Linked DNA regions of Homo sapiens: regions 1, 2, 4 and 5 are each linked to region 3. The links come from fine-mapping of genetic effects on gene expression. A gene starts in region 3. Each other region holds a variant in brackets. All regions are shown on one strand. Distances are from middle to middle. Region 1 overlaps PNPLA8 (patatin like domain 8, phospholipase A2). Region 2 overlaps THAP5 (THAP domain containing 5). Region 3 holds the start of PNPLA8 (patatin like domain 8, phospholipase A2). Region 4 overlaps NRCAM (neuronal cell adhesion molecule). Region 5 has its middle 20 kb from the start of THAP5.

Evidence for each region. PIP is the estimated chance that this variant, and not a neighbour inherited with it, causes the effect. A credible set is the group of variants that fine-mapping cannot tell apart.
Region 1: its variant is the best candidate, but not a certain one, in a credible set for the expression of PNPLA8 in whole blood (INTERVAL, PIP 0.69).
Region 2: its variant is the best candidate, but not a certain one, in a credible set for the expression of PNPLA8 in monocytes (Quach 2016, PIP 0.76).
Region 4: its variant is the best candidate, but not a certain one, in a credible set for the expression of PNPLA8 in monocytes after interferon gamma (Fairfax 2014, PIP 0.70).
Region 5: its variant is the best candidate, but not a certain one, in a credible set for the expression of PNPLA8 in monocytes after R848 (Quach 2016, PIP 0.55).

The regions. Positions count from the first base shown.
Region 1 is chr7:108,500,464-108,505,463 of GRCh38, reverse strand. It overlaps PNPLA8 (patatin like domain 8, phospholipase A2), which reads left to right. Exons shown (of 11, transcript NM_001256007.3): 5 at 2,822-2,973. Among named protein-coding and RNA genes, the nearest start is that of PNPLA8, 23 kb to the left of the region's middle. The variant G/A (reference allele first, on the strand shown) is at 2,081.
Region 2 is chr7:108,564,184-108,569,183 of GRCh38, reverse strand. THAP5 (THAP domain containing 5) reads left to right here. Exons shown (of 3, transcript NM_001130475.3): 2 at 3,162-3,354; 3 at 4,079-5,000. The coding sequence ends at 4,993. Among named protein-coding and RNA genes, the nearest start is that of THAP5, 3.0 kb to the left of the region's middle. The variant G/A (reference allele first, on the strand shown) is at 2,491.
Region 3 is chr7:108,523,905-108,529,053 of GRCh38, reverse strand. PNPLA8 (patatin like domain 8, phospholipase A2) reads left to right here and starts at 2,919. Exons shown (of 11, transcript NM_001256007.3): 1 at 2,919-3,025. It overlaps LOC124901722 (a long non-coding RNA gene), which reads right to left and starts at 2,579. Exons shown (of 2, transcript XR_007060473.1): 1 at 1,409-2,579. RefSeq lists enhancers at 2,301-2,640, 2,931-3,050, 2,822-3,782, 4,462-4,997.
Region 4 is chr7:108,412,648-108,417,827 of GRCh38, reverse strand. All of the region lies in intron 1 of NRCAM (neuronal cell adhesion molecule), which reads left to right. Among named protein-coding and RNA genes, the nearest start is that of NRCAM, 41 kb to the left of the region's middle. The variant G/C (reference allele first, on the strand shown) is at 2,036.
Region 5 is chr7:108,546,703-108,551,882 of GRCh38, reverse strand. It overlaps a transcript of THAP5 not described here. Among named protein-coding and RNA genes, the nearest start is that of THAP5, 20 kb to the left of the region's middle. The variant G/A (reference allele first, on the strand shown) is at 2,562.

The sequences.
Region 1 (5,000 bases), 24 kb after region 3:
TTGAACCTGGGAGGCGGAGGTTGCGGTGAGCTGAGATCACGCCGCTGCACTCCAGCCTGGCAACAGAGTGAGACTCCGTCTCAAAAAAAAAAAAAAAAAAAAAAAAAAAAATATATATATATATATATATATATATATATATATATATATATATATATATATAAATTTTCTTGTGTTTTCTTCTGAAACCTTGCTTTGCCTTTTACTCTTCTATCTAGTATTCATCTAGAATAGATTTGGTTGTGTGGTGTGTGTCAGAAGTCCTGACTTTTAAAAAATACACTTATCCAGTTGACTCAGCACCATTTATTGAAAAGACCTTTATCATAAATGAGATGTATATATGGATCTGTTTCTAGACACAGTATTTTTCATTTATGTATTTTTTGAGATGGAGTTTCGCTCTTGTTGCCCAGGCTGGAGTGCAATGTGCAATCTTGGCTCACCACAACCTCTGCCTCCCAGGTTAAAATGATTCTCCTGCCTCAGCCTCCCTAGTAGCTGGGATTACAGGCATGCACCACCATGCCCAGCTAGTTTTGTATTTTTAGTAGAGATGGGGTTTCCCCATGTTGGTCAGGCTGGTCTCGAACTCCCAACCTCAGGTGATCCACCCACCTCGGCTTCCCAAAGTGCTGGGATTACAGGCGTGAGTCACCATGCCCAGCCAGACACAGTATTTTGTTCCACTGGTATATTTGTGTGTGGTTGTGCTGATAGTGCACTGGCTCAATTTTTGCAGCTGTATAAACCTAGGTAGTATAAATCCTCCAACCTTGTTCTTCTCAATGTTGTTGGCATGGCTATTCTTGACATGTTATATTTCTATATGAATTTTAGAATCACCTTATCTACAAAAAAATTTTTAAAAGAGAAAAACATGGTGGGATTGCAGTGAATATGTGGAACAATTTAGGGTGAATTGGGTCTTTGTTGAGTTTCCAAGCCATGACATATGGCATATTTTTTCAATTATTCGGGTCATCTTTATTTTCCTCCTGTGTTTTAAAAATTTTCAGTGTTGGGTGTCTTTTACATCTTCCATTGGAATGATTTTATTTAACTAATTCATAGGTATCTGATATATTTTGATAATTTTATTTTGTTATTTTTATTTCAACATGTTTTTGTGGTAATTCTAATATGAACATCAATTCTTGGTTTTTGTAATTCGGTACTGGATTCACATACGTTATAGTTTTTCTGGATGCTGGACATTGTAAGTTTAAAAAATTGCATAAGCTCTAGATTATATCAAATTATATCTTTTTCTGGGGTTTATTTGTTCTTCTGTTTGGCATTTGAGTGGAGCCCTGATAGCCTTAATTCAGTTAGGGTCAAATCTGGATCAAGGCTGTATTACAGTTTGGGTAAGACCTCTAGTTTGCCCTGATTTTTGGGCATATTCTTCCAGGGTGTGTTCACTTAACCACCATCTCATTGGGTCCTAAAATCTCAAGAATACAAAGCCTTCCACTCTGATTTTCAGAGGTCTTCGGCTTACCTTTTGCCTTCCACACCTCATGATTTTAGAATTCAGCAAATGTCTTGAGGTAAAGCCAACCATGTGTTTGAAGCCCTTCAGGTCTTCCATTTTTTTCACTCCAAACCCCTTAGATGCTAAACGATCAGCTGGTTTCTCTGTCCTTTATTTGGGGCCCTCTGTCTGAGTCAGACTCACTTTTTTGGTCCTTTACTTTTTCCTGGAATCAGCAAATGCCTCAAGGGAAGAAAAGCTATAGTTTACCAGCTCACTTCCTAGCAATTACTCCTTCTCCAGATTCTTGGCTCCATCTGTTCTTGTTGCTTCAGCAGCTCTCTGTCTGATGCCTTTAAACAGATGGTACTTTTCTTGTATTTCATCAAGATTTTCTTGTTGTTGATGTGAGCGTTGATCTGTAACAGAGTATTTCATCTTAACCGGAAATGGAAATTTGCATTATTCTCCACCATTGCTCAAGTTCCTCTAGTGGGGCCTCACAGCTCAATATTAGGGGAAAAAATATTGAGAAAGAATTTAGAGTATTTCAGGTTGATTGATCATAAAAAAGAAACAAAATGAGTGATACCTAGGAAAATT[G/A]TTTGATTTACAGAAGGTTGCACAGCAGAATTATAGCTGCCACTCAGCCATTCCATTAAACCTGCGGTACTGACTATGTAAGATGCTTCTGTGTACAGAAGCTAGAGAATCTTTGGTAAGCAACATAGAACTCTAGGATTTAAGCTCTTGTCTGTGATCAACAATATGATGTTGAGTGCTTAGAATCTTGAAGTCTCAGGTTTATTTAAACTGATTATTTAATTGTAGTGGCCTGCTTTTACCTTCTCACCTCAGTTACCTTTGTTAACATTTGTTTGTATTCTTTTATGAGGCAACCTTGAATCCCATATGCAATGTATACAAGATGGTTCATTATTTCTTTTTAATAACAGTTTAACTTCTAGTAGTTACTGTGAATCAGTTTTAGCCTCTTAATCTCAGGATTTGGACTAAATATTATACAAAATTTATAATGTTAACCTTTTGTTATAATAATTTGTAAATTTCTATAAATTATATTTTCTCTAGTTAAGTATTACATCTTTTAATGAAAACTTTTGAATATTGGTTAATTTTTGTCCTCAATATTAGAACAAATGTAATCTAGAAAATTGACATTAATATATCAAAAACTAATCTGTCTTATAAGATTACTGAGAAAGTAATGAACACTGTCACCTTGGTTGTCATGTGGTGAACTGCATGTATTGGTTAATAATAATCATACATTTTCAGTCTTGATTTGACAAAAGCAACAAAGTATCTTTTCTCTCAATATAGGAAAGAATTATTCCATATTTATTACGACTGAGACAAATTAAGGATGAAACTCTTCAGGCTGCAGTTAGAGAAATTTTGGCCCTAATTGGCTATGTGGATCCAGTGAAAGGGAGAGGAATCCGAATTCTCTCAATTGATGGTGGAGGAACAAGGTAAGGCTAGGAACATGATTCTTTTTTTTTTTTTTTTTTTTTTTTTTTGAGATGGAGTTTCCCTCTGTTGCCCAGGCTGGAGTGCAGTGGCACAATCTCAGCTCACTGCAACCTCTGCCTCCCAGGTTCAAGCGATTCTCCTGCCTCACCCTCTCAAGTAGCTGGATTTACAGGCTCCCGCCACCATACCCGGCTAATTTTTGTAGTTTTAGTGGAGACAGGGTTTCACCATATTGGCCAGGTTGGTCTCAAACTCCTGACGCCAGGTGATCTGCCTGCCTTGGCCTCCCAAAGTGCTAGGATTACAGGCGCGAGCCACTGCGCCCAGCTGGAACATGATTCTTAAAAACTACAGATTCAATTCAGCTTTAGGAATTAAAAAAAAAAAGATTTGATATAAATAAAATCAAATTTTTAAAATAAAACATGAAATTGTTTTAATTAATACTTTATTAATCTAAGTGCTACTCTGACATATACTTCAGTTCTTTGGTTTGATTTGGTATTTATATTTTTGTATTTGATTTGATTTGATTTTAGTATTTATATTTTTATATTTGGCCTTTTTAGACCTTTTTGGTAGTTCAGAAGCTTATCAACCATTATTCTCATAAAACCTTGACAGTGTTTTATAATTTTAGCTTTCATTTATTATTTTATTTTTTTGGAGACAGAGTCTTGCTCTGTCGCCCAGGCTGGAGTGCAGTGGTGCGATCTCAGATCACTGCAACCTCTGCCTCCCAAGTTCAAGCGATTCTCCTGTCTCAGTCTCCGAAGCAGCTGGGATTATAGGTGTCCACCACCATGCCTGGCTAATTTTTTGTGTTGTAAGTAGAGACGGGATTTCACCATGTTGTCTAGGCTGGTCTTGAACTCCTGACCTCAGGTAAACCACCTGCCTTGGCCTCCCAAAGTGCTGTGATTACAGGCGTGAGCCACCGCGCCCAGCCAGCTTTCTTTTATTACACTTATCTTACCCATATATATCAACTAGTTACTTGATAAAGTGATGGTTACAAAATGAGGCTATATTAACTTCCTGACTTCTGATGTCTTCACTTGGAGATGCCAGTTCTGGTGCCATATAAGAAATAAATTCTTTCTTTGTTCAGAAGGAGATAATTTCACTATTAAGCTCTATTTTTACTACTGGCAATCCATCCATGCTTCCTACTCAGTCTTTGTTTATCTAGTTCCTTCCAACTTGTTGGTTAGATTTTTTGGCTTGGTTTTTCAAACCTTTTCCCCAAAATCTTCTAGCTTGTTCTCTAGTTCCCTGCCATCTCTACTGTTACCTTGTAATTCATAGTACATGCCCTGCCTATTGTTCTTAGGTTTAGCTTACCTCTCTGATTTTGCTTTTTGGTATAACCAACTTGCCAACCACTCTTCTGTATGTTCAAGTACTACCCTGTATCTTTTTGTTAAATTCCTTGGTTCTGTATTCACCCGAGTCCTTTATACTTTGACATCAATATGAAGGAAGGAATAAGTACTGAGAGAAGGAAGCTAACCTCAGATGGTGGCAGTGGAAGGCAGGAGGAAGGAAAAATGTACCAGTAACTTTTTTTTTTTTGAGACGGAGTTTTGCTCTGGTTGTCCGGGCTGGAGTGCAGTGACGTGATCTCGGCTCACTGCAACCTCCACCTCCCAGGTTCAACTGATCAGTTCTCCTGCTGTAGCCTCCCCAAGTAGCTGGGATTATAGGCATGCACTACCACACCCAGCTACTTTTGTATTTTTAGTAGAGACGGGGTTTCACCATGTTGGCAAGGCTGGTCTCAAGCTCCTGACCTCAGGTGATCCACCCGCCTTGGCCTCCCAAAGTGCTGGGATTACAGGTGTGAGCCACCATGCCAATATCAGTAACTTTTAAGAAACTCGGAGACAGGATATGGTAGACATAGGTCAAGATCACTCTAACAGTAAACCTGTGTGTGACTGGGACAAAACTGCAGGGAATCTCAACAGATTGGTGTTGAGGAAAGACAGTTCTTTCTTGAACATATTTAATATAAGATTATATC
Region 2 (5,000 bases), 40 kb before region 3:
TTGAACAACATTAACCACCATTTAAGATACGTGAAACCTGCGAAGTGGAAAGGTGCACGCAAAGTTAATTTACACCCCCCGCGAGGTAGGTCGCATAGGTATAATTTCATCCCACTTTTCTCCTGAGGAAACTGAGGCCCGGAATGATTAGGTAACCGACCTTGAAAGTTTAGTGTCAGAGCCAGAATTATAAACTAGTCTTCTGCTTAGGGCTGTAGATACTCTGCGGAGAACAAGGTTTTATTCTGTTACTCTGAATTACTAGAGCCACGATATATTTCCATCAAACTACTGAAGCACTGATTTTTATTCAGAAGTACAGACAAGCAGTGTCGTATAATAATTAGGGGTCCAGGCTTCAATGCTAGATCCTGGTTCCACTATTCTGTAGCTTAATGACCTCTTGGAAAGTATTTAAGCTTTGGTGTCTCACATATCTCATCTGTAACATGGAGATGTTAATAGTACTCACATGATTAATAACACATGAAAAGCAACATATTTAAAATACTGCATTTCCATTTTTTCTTGTATTTAAAAACAATTCATTTAGATCTAACCTGGTTCAGATTTTCAGCAGTTGTTTTGTGCTCATTTTACTTTAGACCTGAAGGACTTATTCATTAATGATTCGGCTGCTTTCCAGTATTTTAATTAATGGAAAAAAAATTGATAACCCCACCAGGCGCGGTGGCTCACGCCTGTAATCCCAGCACTTTGGGAGGCTGAGGCGGGCAGATCACCTGAGGTCGGCAGTCTGAGACCAGCCTGACCAACATGGAGAAACCCCGTCTGTACTAAAAATACAAAATTAGCTGCGCGTGGCGGCGCATGCCTGTGATCTCAGCTGCTCGGGAGGCTGAGGCAGGTGAATCGCTTGAACCTGGGAGGTGGAGGTTGAGGTGAGCCGAGATCACACCATTGCACCACAGCCTGAGCAACAAGAGCGAAACTCCGTCTCAAAAGAAAAAAAAACTGATAACCCCAAGTAATTCACAATCCATGGCAATATTTCCAGGATTGTCTCCCTTGAAGCCCAGCCTCAAGATGCAAAGAGATGTTTGGGGGAGGAAAACAATCTAATCCACTTTCAGTTTATAGGGAAATACTACTGTACTAATGGCTCTATCTCTGAGAATGTTTGTAGCAAAAGATCATGTTGAACTTGATTTAACCCCGTATTTCCCAGATTTATTTGGCCTTTGATATTGGAGATGGGGTATAACCCCACACTGAAATTTTTAACTAAACTTTGTGGACCTTACAGTAACTTTTTAGGAAGGAAAAAATAATGCAAGTGAATTGTAAAGATTTTTTTCACTGAAAATGTGAATTTAGTAAAAGTTGTATTATTTCTAGGGTTTTTAAAAAATTTTCTTGTGTAATCCACAAAATAAAAATTGAATTAGTTTTATTCTCCAGTAGCGTCAAACTTGAATTGAATTTGCTCATGTTAACACTACAGCAAACTGTAGTTTAAATGTATATGAATTTGGGAATTCAGTTAATATAGTGTCCAGTTTGTACTGTGATTATCTTATGCCTTTTGGGGAATTACATAAGACAATGAAACAAAATTATCAAATGAATTGAACCAATATAAAGACATAATTTATTCAGGAAACATGATCAAGATTTCTTAGAGATTTACCTATTGAAGCAATACAATCCAGTAAACAATAAGGATATTCACAAAGTTTTTTTTAATGAGTTGATAACTTAGCATATAGGTACAATGGAAATAATTTGCAAACAGCATCCATATACATGAATTTACAGTAAAAAGCATTATTGTAAAAGGCCTATTCTCATTTCAGTTGTAACAAAAGAAATGAATTTACCAATGGCCAGAAGAAGTCAGGTCCTCTAAAAGAAAATTTGTCTGCCTTTAAAATTCCTTTTCTGGTTATGCTTGTCATACTTACAACCTAATATTTGTAAAGTTAAAATATTTTTAAAACATGATTAATATTGCTTCTGTGGTTGGAATTTCCAAAGGTAGTTTATCTGATTTTTTTCCGTATGAGGATATCAGGATTAAAAGTTATATCTTACAGAGTACCCAGACTTTCCATGGCATCTTAAAAAGTTACCAGAATTTAGGGGGAAAAAATGATGCTACTACAAAACATAAGCTAAATGATTGGGATTGCGGGAAGGGAGTGTATAACAGCTACATTTTATATGAGAAACCTTATATTGTTACTATTTTTAAAAACAGGAAATTATGTGGTGTCTTGGACTCTGTTCTTGGAAAAGTACCAAATGGAATATAAACCATTTTCAAATATTGTTTTGTATACCTTGACCCAAACCTTTTTAGATTGATAGGAAAAATTTTCTATCAAATTCTGCCATACACTGTAATGTTAGCACCAACTTTAAATCCAGGTTATTGTCAGGTACAGGAACAAAATGTATACAGCGCTGTCTTGCCATTTGTATTTGATTTGTTTCATATAAAATATCTGAGACTGTCCCTTTTAACAT[G/A]TTCCATTCTTTTCTTCTATCAGTTTCTCCTTCAGAACTTGAAATTTGGAGTTCCCAGTTCATTGGTTATAGAAGTGTAGTACTATTAGACTAGATTACTTATAGATAGAATTAAAGATGATGCTAGTAAAGAGAATATTTTCAGTACTTTTTCAGCTAAATCATTTGTTTGAAATAACATCTTATTTTTTAAATATTAAATAAGATTGTAAAGCTTAATACTGCCTTGAATTATAGACAACAAGCCATTTGACATGTGGTGGTATTATGAAATACATTTGAATAGGAATTTATAATTTATACAAACCTTTTTTCTAGTTCTAGGCAAACTGTACAGCAATATAAAAATGGAACATAATCCATAGAAAATACAAATAGATTTTGTCCTTTATAGGAACACATATATTTTACTTGAAGGGACTCTGAATTATGTTCAGCTCTTATCAGATAAGAGCCTTGGCTACATGTCTTACATCTTAGGCCTCTTACTGCAGAGATGATAATGGTACTAGTTGTCATGAAGATGCTCTTATTTGGTAGGGATGGTTGCCTTCCTCTTGTAGTACTTACTTGATGCATAGGTTACCCAGATATATAGGGTGGGAATTTGGCAAAATTGTAAAAATATAGCAAAGTTTTTCCTTTTTTCTTCTTTTTTTTTTAAATTCCAGATTTCCTCTACATGACAAAGAAAGACTGGAAAAGTGGTTAAAGAATATGAAGCGAGATTCATGGGTTCCCAGTAAATACCAGTTTCTATGTAGTGACCATTTTACTCCTGACTCTCTTGACATCAGATGGGGTATTCGATATTTAAAACAAACTGCAGTTCCAACAATATTTTCTTTGCCTGAAGACAATCAGGTATTGCAGTATGGGAGAGGGGTAATGCTGAGCAGAGTGGCAGATTTCAGGGTGGCAGGTGATCAGGTGGGAGAGTAAGAGGGAACTATAACTTGGGTAAACAGATACTTGGAAAAAAGGGAGCACTAATTTGTGCTTTTACTAAAAGTGATAATTAAAAAAAATTAAACTCATGAAGCACAGCTTAAGAGAAGCAAGAGATATACATTATTAAGTTATTAACACAAGTTCATGAGTTTTATTTTTTATACTTTTTTTGTTTGAGACAAGGTCTCATTCTGTCACCCTGGCTAGAGTGCAGTGGTGCGATCTCAGCTCACTGCAACCTCTGCCTCCTGGGTTCAAGCCATTCTCTTGCCTCAGCCTCCTGAGTAGCTGGGATTACAGGCGCCTGCCACCACGCCCGGCTAATTTTTGTATTTTTAGTAGGGATGGGGGTTTCACCATGTTAGCCAGGCTGGTCTTGAACTCCTGACCTCAGTTGATCTGCCTGCCTTGGCCTCCCAATATACTAGTCTTTTGAATGATCTGAAATGTTTCTGCCGTATATTGAATGGGATTAATGCTTTTTAGAAAATACTTTAAGGTATATATACTCTGAGCTTTTTTTTAACTAAATAAATTTGCTTGGCCAGTGTACTACTCAATATTATAATTAAATAGCACTAGCATAATAAGCCAATAAAAGTCATCTTTTTCAGAACATGAAAATATTATTTTCTAGGGAAAAGACCCTTCTAAAAAAAAATCCCAGAAGAAAAACTTGGAAGATGAGAAAGAAGTATGCCCAAAAGCCAAGTCAGAAGAATCATTTGTATTAAATGAGACAAAGAAAAATATAGTTAACACAGATGTGCCCCATCAACATCCAGAATTACTTCATTCATCTTCCTTGGTAAAGCCACCAGCTCCCAAAACAGGAAGTATACAAAATAACATGTTAACTCTTAATCTAGTTAAACAACATACTGGGAAACCAGAATCTACCTTGGAAACATCAGTTAACCAAGATACAGGTAGAGGTGGTTTTCACACATGTTTTGAGAATCTAAATTCTACAACTATTACTTTGACAACTTCAAATTCAGAAAGTATTCATCAATCTTTGGAAACTCAAGAAGTTCTTGAAGTAACTACCAGTCATCTTGCTAATCCAAACTTTACAAGTAATTCCATGGAAATAAAGTCAGCACAGGAAAATCCATTCTTATTCAGCACAATTAATCAAACAGTTGAAGAATTAAACACAAATAAAGAATCTGTTATTGCCATTTTTGTACCTGCTGAAAATTCTAAACCCTCAGTTAATTCTTTTATATCTGCACAAAAAGAAACCACGGAAATGGAAGACACAGACATTGAAGACTCCTTGTATAAGGATGTAGACTATGGGACAGAAGTTTTACAAATCGAACATTCTTACTGCAGACAAGATATAAATAAGGAACATCTTTGGCAGAAAGTCTCTAAGCTACATTCAAAGATAACTCTTCTAGAGTTAAAAGAGCAACAAACTCTAGGTAGATTGAAGTCTTTGGAAGCTCTTATAAGGCAGCTAAAGCAGGAAAACTGGCTATCTGAAGAAAACGTCAAGATTATAGAAAACCATTTTACAACATATGAAGTCACTATGATATAGAATAACT
Region 3 (5,149 bases):
ATCAATAATAAACCTTATAAATAGAATGAGCATAGCAAGTAACTGATACAGGGCAATGTGATGTCTCTTTTACCCAGCTTCCAAAGAATATAGCGTTGAACAATTACTGTATTTAGCATTATTTCAAGTATAGATGATTTCCTGAAGGCATTAGTCTGCTATTATACACAAGATAATCTCCAATTTTGCATACTACTGAATTTGTTTGAAATTAAATATAATTCTCTTTTGTCTCAAAACTGCCCAACATCAAAAGAATCATAAATGGGTTTTATTTTCCATTTTTAACTTATCAAACTAGTAATCTAAATGAAACTAAAAATCAATTCAATAATACAGAATTTTAGAGAGTCTACTATTTGTTGGATGTTACGCTAGATCCAGACAATACAGTTTACCTTACGCTCCTTGACTGCAGGAAACTGGCAGGCATATAAACAAATAAATTATAATACTGTGCAGCAAGGGCAATAAGAGAAGTGAGCACAGGTGGAAGGAATGATTCATTCTATGAGTAGTGAGGTAAGATTTTCCTGGCTGAAGGACAAACAAATCTTTAGGAGGACAAGGTGGAAGGGGAGCTAAGCCAACAGCATGACCAAGGCACTAAGTATGAAAAGGAACAAGAGTATCTGGGGAAGTACAGGTGTGGCTGGAGGATAGAGAGTGAGAGGCAAGTGGTGAAAGTAAAGGCTGGAAGGTCAGCAGGGTCAGAACCTATAATTTCATTCGGTATATTCTGTGAAGATGTACAGCCAGCAAAAGCTTTTTAATTCGGGAAAACACGATTGGACTTGCACTTTCAAAAGATTACCGTGGTTGCACAGAAGAGACTGACTGGGTCAGAGGTTAGTTACAGGCTGGAAAACCAGTTTAGATGAAACTGAAGAGCAAGGATGAAAGCCTGAACTAGAGCAGTGGAAATGCGAATGTGGAGCAGAGGAACGATTCAAGAAATTCTGCGGTAAAACTCATCAGACTTCATGACTGATTAAAGGTATGGTGGTAGACAAGGGAGGGAGAGGAAGGATAAGAATGGAGAAGCAGGAATTGGGCGTTATTTGAAAATTTCTGACATGGGAGGAAAATCTGGATATTTAATAACATCTGACTAAATTAGGGGATGAAAGAGCATAAGCGGAGAGGGAATGGTGGTGCTCTCTCCTTGACCATACTTTAGTTAGGCTCCTCTGAGCCCTCTTCCCAACTAGGCCTCATCCTTGGGCCCCTGTCTTAGGCCTGCTGAGTCCAGTTTTAGCAAGAATCTTGCAAAGTCAGTTTAGAGAGTATCTCCTAGCCTTGATAATTGATCATCTCCGCCTGTCTTCAGCAAGAATCTTGTAAGTCACTTTAACAAGAATATCCCCGACCCTTGATATCACTTCTTAGTAATTTTCCATGAACTGACCCCTCAGTCTGCTTGCTGGTTATAAATCCTAGCTGTTTTTGTTGTATTAAAACTTGAGGCCAATCTCTCTCCCCCATGGTGATAGTCATGGCACCTATTGCAATAGTTCTAAATGTCTTCCTTGACATTTTAACAAGTGTCAGAATAATTTTTCTTTAGCAACAAGGAGGAATCTGTCTCAAAAACTAAAGCTCCTTCCACACGCCTGTAAGGCTTAATTGGTGCATACATCTTTTAACTCTCCTGTAGCTAAATAACATGTCTGGCTTATCCACTGCTGGGGTTTACCAGGCATTATGATGTACATAATCCAGACACTGTGTCCCAAGAACATAGCAAGCTGGCTTTCCCTCCTTGATTTAAAAAAATCAAAACAACACAACTATCAGGGTAACATCCACTACATTTGACAGGTCAAAGAATCCCCTTCCTTAAGGACTTTACAATAACCTTACAGGGGGCTAAAGCATACATACCCATGGGTAGTGGGTAAGCCTTGAGAGTACAGTATAAGTCTTGATAACATTTTGAGGTTGATAACTAGTTGAAACTGATCTGTTTTCCCGACCTCAACGTAATTGCAAGGTCACTTCAAGAGGGTAAGGGGCTATTGCAACTACCCAAATTCGCTATTGTAGTATAAAAGCTTTAATTAACAGCATGTATAGGAATGCAAAGCTATGTTCTAATGAAACTTTAAAAAGCAGACACAAATATGAATGTCATATAATTGTCATCTGTCGCAAAACTTTTTTTTTAACCTTTGAAAAATGTGAAACCCATTTTTAGCTCCTAGTACAGCAGAACCTGCGGTGGGCTGGATTTGCCCTGAGGGCTGTAGTTTGCCCCTGTGGTACGTATGAAATGCCACAATTTTAAAAAGATGTGTTACGTGTGGGACCATTTGTGGGGCGGTTTATGCTAACTTCCAATACAGTAATATATGTCAACTCGCTTTTGAGTGACATTTAGTCTGGGTGGCCATGCCCAGGAATGGATATAGAGAAAGGGGCGCGGCCGCGCCGGGCACCACCCTCCAAGAGACTGGTATCGCAGCCCCCAGCTCCAAGGAACTCAGCGCAGGCAGGGGCTTCAGGGACGCGGAGAGGGAGGCTTATCTCTGCTGAAAGGGAATAGCGGCCCGCAAACAAGCAAACCAGGACACTGCTCCGAGGTCCCGCCCAGGAAGGCAAAACGAAGTCCCACCGCTCTCACACCCGGCAACCAACCAAGGCACAGCACGCCCCACCAGCAAGCCACGCCTCGCGCATCACGCACGCACGCACGCACGCACACACGTCTGTCGCGGCTTCCCGCCTTGCGCTCCGTCATGCTCTATTGCGCATATCTCGGGGCGGGGGAGGAACGGAGATTGACAAGGAGGCAGAGGCCTGAGCGAGGCGGAAAATCCTCACCCCGGCCCGCGGGTAGACCCAAACTTCTAGCGCGTCACTTCCGCTGGGGGCGGAGCGGGGCGGGGCTGAGTGGGTGGCGACCTAGCTGCTGCGCCAGTGTTTGTGTTGGAAGCTCAGCTGATGCAGGCCGGTTGGAGTGGACGTCATTGCCGGGAACGAGCGAGTCGCCGCTGCAGCCCTAGTGACTGCGGCCTGCATCCCGGTAAGTAGCCGCGAGGGGACAGGGGCGGGACGATAGGAGGCTGGTTGATCGTTCTGGACCCTTGTCCGGCGCTCCGGGTCGTCCTTTCTTTCTTTGGAGGGCACTTCCCGAGCGAGAGGGTGGGGACACGCCAGGCTTTGGGGAGGAGCTGGCGCTGGAAGGAGCCCGCAGGTCCTGGAGCTCATTGGTACTCGGCGCCCTCCGCCCCCGTGGGCTTTGCTGCCCCAGAAGCGCAAACCGTATTTGGTTTCGCAGGTCCCGCCCTGCTCCCCCTGTCCCATCCCCACGACTCCCTCCTCAATTTTCCAGAGTCTGTCTGCCTTCCCCTGGACTGTAGTGTTCTCCAGTAGTTAACTGGTCACTCTCAGGAGGGTTTCCCTAGTCTACATCATTCTCGACTGTCAGTGTGCACCTGGTGATTCTACTGCCTGATATTTTTTGTCAGTAATCTCTTTCTGACCCCATCCACATTTGATTCTATCCTTGACCGCTGTTGCTTAAGTGGATAAGGTGTATGAATCACTGTGTTGCAGTGCTTCCTATCCCTGTGTCATTTCTATCATTGTGCTGGAAGGAACCTGCTTTCCACGCCTAATACAATGATAACTTTAAAATGGTGACTCATAGGAAAAACTCAGGAGAGTTGTGACATAAGGGACTATCATATAATCCTGCTTAAAATACTGTTTTCAATTCCAAAACAGTTGTATCCTGGTTCTGCAGTCCTAATTTCTGAGAGTTCAAAAATGACAAATGTTTCAGTGTATTAAGAAAATGCTGTTAAACAGTGAAACATTAAGAGCTTATGCCTTGTGAGGCAGTTGTATCAAGCCCATTTTAGCTATTTTGTTAAATTGCTTATGCAAATTAGTTGTCCTTTCAATATAAGAACATGTTTTTATTTCGTAATTATAATCAACTTTTTCTTAATGTTGATCTCTTTTTTTATTTCTATATCAGGACTAAATTAAAATCTTGTAAACGCCCTTTTAATGAGTGATGTTGAATGAAAGGGCCAGTTTCACTAGTTTAGCTATTCACTTGTTTCACATGCAAAGTTGTTACAAGAACAGCCTGTACTTTGAGTTGTTTTTTTTTACCCCAGTTAGAGGGGTTGTGCTGAAGCTGCATATTGCTTCACTCATGGAATATATATTTGTAAAAAGGTCAGAGTTAGAATGCTGAGCCATAGACACCTTCCTGTCCTGCCATTTTTTGTTGTTGTTGGGAGTCTCTCTCTGTCGCCCAGGCTGGAGTGCCTTGGTGCGATCTCGACTCACTGCAAGGTTCAAACGATTCTCTTGCTTCAGCCTCCCGAGTAGCTGGGATTTACAGGCGTGCGCAACCACACCCGGCTAATTTTTTTAAGTAGAGACGGGTTTCCCCATGTTGGCCAGGCTGCTCTCAAACTCCTGGCCTCAGGTGATCCGCCCGCCTCGGCCTCCCAAAGTGCTGGGATTTCAGGCCTGAGCCACCGCACCTGGCCAGTCATTTCTTAGTTCTTATCTTTCTCTGCAGTACTCAAGTATTTTATTCTGTTCATTATCCATTACTTGAAAAAATTTGGTCCTGTCTTGGTTTTCAGTGTCCTGATTTTTTCAGGGTGGCTTTTCTCCTGTTTTGTTTCCTTTAGAGTCTTTTCTTCCTCTTCCTAGCTCTGGGTGGCACTCAAGGCTCTACCCCTGTCGCTCTCCCTAAACCAGAGTTTCGTGTTTGAAACCCAAATATACTTCAGTGGGCATGTGAATATCCTGAAATATTATGGAAAATATAGTTTGTATTGCAAATACACATTTTTCAAGGAAGAAAAGCTTTACTCAGGTTGCCTGATCCCAAAATAGTCATGTATTATTACTGTAAACTATCATCTGGTAAATACGTCTAATGTTGTGGTTTCTGCTGCCACTATGCTGGTAATTCCACAAGTAAATCCACAGTCTGTGTACATTTCCATTTGAATGTCCCACTGTTACTTCATCCTGTGAATCCAAAAGAAAATGTGTTTTTCTCTCCTATTAAATTGTCCCCTTCACAGTTTTCTCATATTCGCAAATGGCACTCTCCGTATTTTTCAGATTTAAAACCTTAGAGCTCTCTTAACACTTCCCTCTCTTTACCCCATTC
Region 4 (5,180 bases), 110 kb after region 3:
TGGTATTTAACCAGGTATTAACACCAGTGTCACCTCTGTAACTTGCAAAAGAAAAAAGAAAGAGAGTGAAAAAGAAAGAAAGAGAAGAGCAGAGAAAAGAAAAGAAAAGAAAGAGCCATCTGCCTAGTGTCCAGAGATTTAGAAGTTGAGTTCTGGACATCTGAATTAAAAAGAAAAAATTATAGCTCATTATGACATGAACTCCCAATCAAATTGCTGGAATATTTACCTCAGTTACCAGAAAATTATTTGTTTTCTTTCGCTAGGGTTAGGATGTTTGTCCCCTCCAAAATTCGCGTTGAAATTTAATTGCCTTTGTAACAGTATGAAGAGGTGGGACTGTTGAGAGATGATTAGGCCATGAGGGCTCCACCCTTATAGGTAGGATTGTTGTTATTATAAAAGGATGAGTTTGGCCCCCTTCCCTGTGTCTCTCTTGCTCTCTCTTGTCCTTCTGCCTTTTGCCATGGGATGACGCAACTACAAGGTCGTCACCAGATGTCTGCACCTTGATACTGGACTTCTCAGACTCCAGAATTGTGAGCCAATAAATTTCTGTCCTTATAAGTTACCCAGTCTCAGGTTTTCTGTTATAACAGCTTCAAACAAACTAAGACATCTCCATAGCAATTAAAATAGGCTACTGTTGGCTATTAGCTTAAAGGATCCTTAGAAGCACCAGTATTATTTGATCAAATGGAGGGAAGCGTGTTATGTTGCAAAAGCAGAGAATCATGAGACATTCAATCACTTACTCTTTAAGGGAAGATGGAAAACATTGAAATAAATGGTCAGTGACAACAGTAGCAACATCTGAAAAGTGATGTTCCCAAACTAGGAATCTCTCTGGAGAATATGTGTTTGTAATGTCCGTTAATTGCTCAGGGAAATGAACAGCATGGATCTGAAATGGGAGGGACCTGTCATAAATAGCACAACCTCTTCCAATGGTTTGCAAGAGTAGGTGCTGTTTGATAGAAGGGTTAGTAAGATCCATGAGGAACCTCCCTTAATTATGAATGGCAATAGTAATTAACAGGATGTGTGAACTGCTCTGCAGTGATGGAAATTTCATCTGAGTTTCCTTTCCTTTTTACTGGTTTCATTCTGCCTTGTTGGAGAAGGTCCCATGCCTTCAACTATACAGACATGAAATTCAAATCTTGAAAAGCATACTATAAAAACCCAAGTTTTTCCTTGGGGGTATTAGTCTGTCTAGTTAAGGAAGACTTTTTTTTTTTAATTATTTGTCTCTTTCCCGAAGTAGTAGGCAATTAGACATCAAATGAAATTAAAAATCCCTACATGATTGTCTCCTGGCCAGAACATGTTGCCTGCTGCCATAGAAACAGCTCTCTGATCTCAGCGGTGATGACAAAGCATAGTTCTGACAAAGCAGGTTCCTTTGCCACACGCCTGTGGTTTAATCTTTTCCTCTTTTCCCCCGTGAGGCAGTTCTGTCTAGCGTTGTCAACCATGTCAATTTTGCTAGAATGTCTCAAAACATCTGTAATATGCTGATTAAAATAGACACTATGATACTATAAAAGAAATGTGCTGTTTTTCTGCTGTCTCTATCCTACTCCTGGAATTGCATCTGCAGTTTTATTTAAAGCAAATGCAGCATTCAAATCTCCTGTAGTTATTCTTGCTCCATGAAGATGAATATCTTAGTCATGCTGATCTGGAGGGATGGGCTCACATCAGCAGCTGGCCCGTTCTGTCATGGAAGAATCACTCTTCTGGACTGGAAGAAGCAAGTGAAATGTTTCTGAAATGTTTGCAGCATCTCTCAGAGGAAAAGGGAACTTCATGACAGAAATAAAGCCAGAGAGGGCCACTGTGAAAAACACTGGAGGGTAAAAATAACTACATAAGAGCAACCATGTGGAAACCACGGAGCCCTCTCATCTCCTTTTTGGTTTTGTTTTTTTGTTTGTTTTTTGAGAGGGAGTTTTGCTCTTGCTGCCCAGGCTGGAGCGCAATGGCGTGATATCAGCTCACTGCAACCTCCATCTCCTGTGTTCTAGTGACT[G/C]TCCTGCCTCAGCCTCCCAAGTAGCTGGGATTACAGGTGCCTGCCACCATGCCCGGCTAATTTTTTGTATTTTTAGTAGAGGCAGGGTTTTGCCATGTTGGCCAGGCTGGTCTCAAACTCCTGACCTCAGATGATCCACCCACCTTGGCCTCCCAAAGTGCTGGGATACAGGCATGAGCCACTGCGCCCGGCCTTCTTCTCCTTTTTATGGGTAGAAATTAGGATGTAGGCCAACCATTTAATCAAGAAGCATTTATTATCTCTTTTTATCATGCTTCTTTCCTGCCATGCCCATTTCTCATTGCATCAGATCTAAGCCCCCTTTTGATGTTTTAGGAAGTCATTAAATAATGTTCCTGTCCTCCCTCCCAAGTTTGCACCATTTGAGAAAGACGACACAAAAACCAGATTGAAGGAGAAGTGCCAGCTTGATTATAGTTCAGGCTGACTGGGGAAGTGATTAGACGTGCGGCCACAGGGCTTCCAGGTACCTCCTTCTCCATTAGACATTGTCACCCTCAAGGTCCCACCGCAGGCTGTTGCTCACACAGGCAGGCCTGCCAAGGAAAGGTACCCCTGTTGTCAGATGGCAGATATGAAAGGGAAACCAGAAGGCTCAGGGCCAAGAAGACCTTGTTTCTTCCCCCAGATTCCTTGTGCTGTTGGCTCACAGGTGTGATGGAGGGTGTGGGAGAAGCTGGGAATATTATACTGCAACCTCCTAAGAAATGGAGTATTTTTTTTCTTTTTCATCTCTTCTGTGGTAATATGAGGAGTAGCAAATGCCCTTCACCTCCAAACCCCTCTGTCTTGCCTCCACAGCCCTCTGCTATGAACCCTGGACTCACCCTGCTGCTCCCCAGCAAGCCCCTCTGTTCAGGGAAACCCAATGTCCTTCAGGCTCTCCCTGCTTCTCCTTACCACGCCCACTGTTGTGGTTGTGCTGGCTTCACCAAGGTGACTCTTCTCCAGGGAACACACTCCCTGCAGTCTTCCCCCCTTCTCTGTCTTCCCAGCGTTTTTTTAAGCCCCTCTTCCTAGCAGTCTGCCGTGGGTGAGATCTGATGGTTTTCCTCTTCTCTGTGAATACTTTTTGTTTTATTCTGGGCCCTGTACACTGAGTGGTATCAAATGGCTCCCATTTTCTAAAACACTGAACAATTTGCCCTCTAATTACATTCATTCATTCCTTTGTCTTTTTCACTTATTGTTACATAGGTAGAGTCTGGCCTCCCCAGTTAGATTGTGAGGTTGTTGTGGACAGGATTCACTTCTTTTATGCCTCTTTTGTACCCTTTCTCAGGGCTAGTCTAATGTAGAGTGGAGAGTTTATGTAGATAATTGTCTTAGCCTGGGTTCCCTAGAAAACAGAATCTGAGCTCACTTGAGAAGGTTTTATGAGGAGATGGAATTCCAGGACAAAAATAGTGAGGGAACGGGGGAAGCCAGACAAATAATACCTAACAGTGCTTTGCCAAGCTGTCCAAAGCTTCTCAAGGAAATACAGCTGGTTGCTCTGTGACACACACTGTCTTGCAGACAGGTCTTTGGGATCACACTGTACTTTGCAACAGTCTGTCACAAGAAGGAATGGCAAGGAATTGATCTTTTAGCTCCTTCTTGTCTCCTGTCTCTTACTGGTCAAGGTTTCCGCATTAAGTTTTAAGTTCCTGTTTTCAGATTATGTTACCATGACCCTCTGATCAGCCTCTGGGAAAGCCAGATCCTATACCCCACAGCAGGGTGCTTCGTTGGAATGTAGAAGTGGTTCAAGAAGCCAGAGTCTCTATAATAGCAGCTACACAGGATGAGGGTGCAGGGGTGTAGCTCCTGCTGCAGTGTGGACATGACAGAGGCTGAGTCAGAGCCATCAGCTACAGAGAGGCTGAGACAGCTGATGGTGTTGGGAGAGAAGATGGTGGCTGTGGCAGGGACTTTACACTGAGCAAGCAGCCAGAGGAACAGTGTGGAGAGGGGCAGGCAAACCTGGGAAAGCAGAAAAATTGGACTCAATACAGCACCAAATGAATTTCTATTGGCTGGATAACTAAATATAATAAATGTTTGATAAATATTTATTGATGTCTGTTGGTTAATTGCCCCCTATATTCCTGTCTTACTGTACTTATTGGGAGATACAAAGGGAAACCTAAAAGCCAATTTAGACTAAATATGTAAGTGTTGAAGGATCAGAGTAAAGGAAGAATAAAAATGTGTGAGATCAAGGTAATTAATCAAGGAGGGCTTCCTGGAGGAGGTGAGTTTTGAGTTGTCTTTCAAAGGCTATAGTGGTAAGGATTTATAAAGAGGAAAGGGTTATTTGGAATGGGAGAAAATATTGGCAAACCATACATTTGATAAATGGTTAATATCCAAAATATATAAGGAACTGAAACAACTCAATAACAAGAAGACAGCCCAAATAAAAAAATGGGCAAAGCACCTGAATAGACATTTTTCAGAAGAAGACATACAAATGGGCAACAGATATATGAAAAAGTGCTCAACATACTAATCATCAGGGAAATGTAAATTAAAACCACAGTGAGATATCACCTCACACCTGTTAGAATGACTATTATCAAAAAGATGAAAGGTAGGAAGTATTGGCAAGGATGTGGAGAAAAGAGAACACTTGTTCACTGTTGGTGAGAATGTAAAGTAGTACAGCAATTATGGAAAGTAGTATTGTGGCTCCTCAGAAAATTAAAAATAGAACTACCATATGATCCAACAATCCAACTGGGCATATGTCCAAAAAAAATGAAATCAGTATCTGAACTCCTGTGTTCATAGCAGCACTATTCACAATAGCCAAGACATGGATCAACCGAAGTGTTTATCTATGGATGAATGGATAAAGAAAATGCAGTCTATATATACAATAGAATACTATATAGCCATAAAAAGAATAAGATCCTGTCATTCACGACAACATGGATGAACCTGGAGGACATTATGTTTAGTGAAATAAGCCAGGCACAGAAAGACAAATACCACATGATCTTACTTTCATGTAGAATCTTTAAAAAGCTGATTTCATAGAAGTAGAGAGTAGAATGGTGGTTACCAGGGGCTGGGGTGGTGGGAACGGAGGGAGGTTTGGGAGATGTTGGTCAAAGGATACAAAACAAGTTAGGAGGAA
Region 5 (5,180 bases), 23 kb before region 3:
GCAACAGTGATTCTCAACACTCACTGTGCATTAAAATCACGTGGGAAGTTTTAGAAACTTTTCCTGGCCTGGGCTCCACTCTCAGAGAATCTCATTCAATTGGTCTGGTTTAAAGCCTGAGCATCTATATTTTTTAATGTTTTCCAGGTGATTCTAATGAACAGCAAAAGTTGAGAATCATTGCTGTACAGTGAAACTCAGGGCAAGACTCATCCATAGGTACAGAGTTTTTCACCAGCTTTTAAATGTTCTGTCCACTGATAGTCAACAGACAATTGAGAAGAGCAGTTAATAATAAAGATGTGGACGTCTTAGTCTATTTTCTACTGCTATAACAGAATGCCTGACGCTGGGTAATTTACAAAGAAAAACATTTCTCTGAAGGCTGAAAAGTCCAAAATTAAGGCGCCAGCATTTGATGAGGGCCTTCTTGCCACATCCTTATATGGAAGAAGAGTGAGAGAGGATGAACATTGTGTCCTCATATGGCAGAAGAGTGAAAGAGAGGGAACACATTCTTGCAAGCCCCTTATATAGTGACATTCATTCATTCATGATGGCAGAGCTCTCATGACCTAAGCACCTTCCAAAAAGCCCCACCTCCCAACACTGTTGCACTGGGCATGAAGTTTCCAACACATGCATTTTGGGAGACACATTCAGACCATAGCATGGCCCAAATAAATAAGTAAAAAACAGCAACTTAGCGAAAACAGATTATGTAGTCATAAGAAAACATAGGGGAAAGAACCCAACTATAGTTCATGTTCTTTCTGAGCAAAGGCTATATTGCATTTCTGAAAACAAAAACATGATACCTTTTAGAAAAGGAATATTATAAAAACGTAAAGAGCTCTAGTAATTTAAAATGTTATAAATGAAAAGTTAATAGGAGAGTTAGAAGATTAAAGTTGAAGGAATCTCCCAAAAAGTAGAACAAAAAAAGCCAAAAGATAGAAAGGAAGAGACCCAAATAAGAATTGTGTCCCCTGAAAATTCATGTGTTGAAGCCGTAAAGCCCAGTACCTCAGGACGTGACTGTATTTGGAGACAGGGCCTTTAAAGAGATTAGGTTAAAATGAGGCCATTAGGGTGAGCCTTATTGCTATCCAACTTAGGTCCTTATTAGAAGAGAAAATTCGGACATACAAAGAGACATGAGGGATGCAAGGGCATCCTAGAAAGACCATGTGAGGACACAGAAGAAAGTAGCCATCTGTAATACAGGGAGAGAGACCTTAGGAGAAACCAAACTTACTGATACCTTGATCTCAGAACTGTGAAAATAAATTTCTGTTGTTTAAGCCACACAGGCTGTCCTATTTTGTTACATTAGTCCTAGAAATCCAATAGATCCAGGAGACTCAATATCCACATAATGGGCATTTTAGAGAATTGTAATAGAAAAAAAAATGGAGCAAAGAAAATAGTAACAGAAATAATGCAAGTAACTTTTCTGGACCTGAACATGTATTTCCAGATGGAATGACCCATTATGTCCTGAGAACAATGGGCAAAAACAGGTACTTACCAAGGCACATTATTTTTTAAAGTCAGAGCTATAAATATAAACAGAAGATTTTACAGACCTTCAGCAAGAAGAAAAAAAGACACAAAGGGTCAAGAATAGAGTAGCTCCAAACTTCTTAGCTACACTGGAAGCAAAAAGTAAAAAGAAAGATTAATAATCTGAAAATTCTGAAGGAAAAACATAGAATTGATTCTGTATATCCAAGGTCTCAAAAAATTGCCTCCTCTGGACCCTTTCTAAGGAAGCTGTTGGAAAATGTATTCTAGGGAAATAAGGCCATAAAAGAAAATAAAAAAACTGTTTATCTTCTGGAATGATTGCCTAGATGATAGTTTATTATTCAATTGATCTAGAGATGAAAATAGGAAAAAAGGAAATTCAAATCAAGAAAGAAGCAAAAGGAATTCCAAGCTGGTGGTGAAGGAAGGGCCCCAATACAACGTTACTAGAGAGCCACCAGTCCAAATGACAACAATAGGTCTGGAGGCTCAGAAACATCGAGTTCTTCAAATGAAACATAAAGTTCTTCAAAGATGGAAATCATTAGATTAACTAATGTGTTGAATATCTGGAGAGGAAACTCACTCATCTGGGGTAGAATTTAGGGTTAAATTAATGATAAAGCACAGAGAAAACTATGCAAAGAATCCAGACTAATATTGACATGAAATGTGCATGGAAGATCAAACTGTCATTTCTTCATACATAACTGCATTTACATGGTCAAAATAATGTAAATACAATATAACCACTTACACAATGTATATTGGGAAGATAGAAGGTAACATAGAAGGGTGTGTGTGTATGCTCATGTTTGTGGTTGGGTCAGAAGCAAGGGGTAGAATGACAAGGTAATTAAACAGAGCAAATCCTCATCTACCATAGTGGAGTGTCAAAAAGACAGTGCCTAAATCCAAAACTTTAAAAATATAGGTCAGATGCAGTGGCTCACGCCTGTAATCCCAGCACTTTGGGAGGCCGAGGCGGGCGGATCATGAGGTCAAGAGATCGAGACCATACTGGCCAATAC[G/A]GTGAAACCCCGTCTCTACTAAAAATACAAAAATTAGCTGGGCGTGGTGGTGTGCACCTGTAGTCCCAGCTACTCAGGAGGCTGAGGCAGGAAAATCACTTGAACCCGGGAGGTGGAAGTTGTAGTGAGCTGAGATCCTGTCACGGCACTCCAGCCTGGTGACAAAGCGAGACTCAAAAAAAAAAAAAGTACTTGTGTGTGTGTGTGTGTGTGTGTGTGTGTGTGTGTGTGTATTAAGCATGTTATTTTGAGAAATATAGGTAAATACACAAAGAATCTGCAATATGATTAGAAGCGGTTGACTCTGGAGAGCAGAAAATGAACTAGGACTGCAGGCTTTTGTTTTGTTTTGTTTGCAATAAGGCTTGTAGAACACTGGGTTTTTAAGAATATGTGTAAGAGCTATGGGCTCACTCCTATTCATCCTTCAGGACTGATATGGTTTGGCTGTGTCCCCACCCAAATCTCATCTTAAATTGTAGCTCCCATAATTCCCATGTGTCCTGGGTGGGACCAGTGGGAGGTAATTGAATCATGGGGGAGGTCTTTTCTGCGCTGTTCTCATGATAGTGAATAAGTCTCATGAGATCTGATGGCTTTATAAAGGGGAGTTCCCCTACACAAGCTCTCTTGCCTGCTGCCTTGTAAGACATGACTTTGCTCCTCATTTGCCTTCAGTCATGATTGTGAGGCCTCCCCAGCCATGTGGAACTGTGAGTCAATTAAACCTCTTTCCTTTATAAATTAGCCAGTCTTGGATTATGTCTGTACTAGCAGCATGAGAACAGACTAATACAAGGGCTGACCTATTCGTTATTTTATCTAGAAAGCCTTCATTTGCCCTTCCAGATAACCTTCATATTTAGTCTGTTAGCTCCTTTTACTTAATCCTATTATCATTTCTATCATCCAGTGTCATTATTGCTTCTTTACTTGTTTTTTTATCCCCAAAGTATAAGCTTTTTATGAGCTTTTTAGCTTCATTGTCTAGCACAATTCCTAGTACAAAGTCAGAGCTCCATAAATATTTTTCAGGTGAACAATAGCACCTACTAAGCCATATTTCAAGAGCTGTTTTGCTGGGTCTAATTCTGGCTCCACATTGAGACAGTCAGCATATAAATTAACCAATTTGCAGCTCCATGAGTATATTATTGTCCCATTATTCAGGCAGGTCCTGTTAAATTATTAACTTGAATTGTAGTGTAAATAATGCTACTTTAAATCTCTCCTGGCATGTTATAACCAGTACCTAGAAAAGGTGCAGTAGCATTCCCTCCAGGGTTGGGGACTGGACCATGGGAGGCTTTTAGGAGGCTCATTGGATCCTCTAAAATTTAATGCAAAATTTCATGTGCATAGGCATTTTTCACAATTTCTATTAAGATTAAGAAAGGGATAAATTACCCCTCAAAATTTAAACACCACTGCTCAGGGCAATAATAGCTTACATCTTACCTTGTGCCATTCTTTAGAGAAACAAAAGCTCTTTACGTATTTTATCATCTAAAAACCCTGAAACATAGAAATGGAAAATCGATTATTCTAGACAGGTTAATACACAAACAACAGCTCAACTATGTGATTTTAATTAATCAGGAATAGAACTAGGACTAAAAGAAAAAGTGTCCCATATCTAAAAGCAGGCTTGATAAACTGTACACAGAATTCTTACAAATCTTAGACGAATACTGCCTCATAATTTTAGGGAAAATAACTTTTAATGTTCAAATTACTATATAGAATATCAGAAAATAAATTTAGGGATTAAGTAAGTATTCTTTTGGATCGCTGGAAAATAATATGTAAGTTCAAGTCTTGCTTTTGGTTACAGAAATATAATTCAAAATGAGAAGCAATGGAGTAGGAGCTAATTTCAGAGAGAACCTAATCTTTAGTTTTATTCAGTGCATGGTTCATGTTTTCCATTAATAAAGATGTGTGGTGTTTAAATATGCACAATGAACTAGAATATTATAAATGTGAAATGAGGTTAATTTCATTGAGCTTGCTACCTTGGTTAGTCTAAATGAAAATGAATTCACTGGCATGAGACTAGAATGTACCTGAACCACGGATGAAAAATAAGTTAATCCGTTCATCAGTGTGGTATTAAAAGATGAGAAAGAATTTTTGAGGGAGTAGAGAGTGACAGATGACGGACACTATACAAATTGTTCAAACAATTCCCAGAATGTCATTAAATAAGAAATGTCTATTCCTTTTTTGGAACATTAAATAATATGCTCAAGAAGCATTTGTTTTGCCTTGTTAAAACTTGGTGCTTTGAAACACCCTTCAGCATATCAACTTCCAGTCCACCTGGATAGTTTCCTTAATTTGGGAAATGATAAAACACAAAGGGAAAACAATGTTCCTTAATATAGGAGGGGCATAGAGCTGGGATCCAGCTCCGATTTATTTTATTACCAATGCAAGCGAGACTGAAACATCTGGTTTGCATTGGTAATATAATTTAGTGAGGAGGTAGAAGCACATTACTAGGTATCATCACAGTAATGTATTTCTGAAGAGTACTGTAAACAAAGCTTTTTAATAAAAAATAGACAACAACATCAGCTCAAGTCATGCAAAGGTAAACTGCTCATTCCTTAGCAA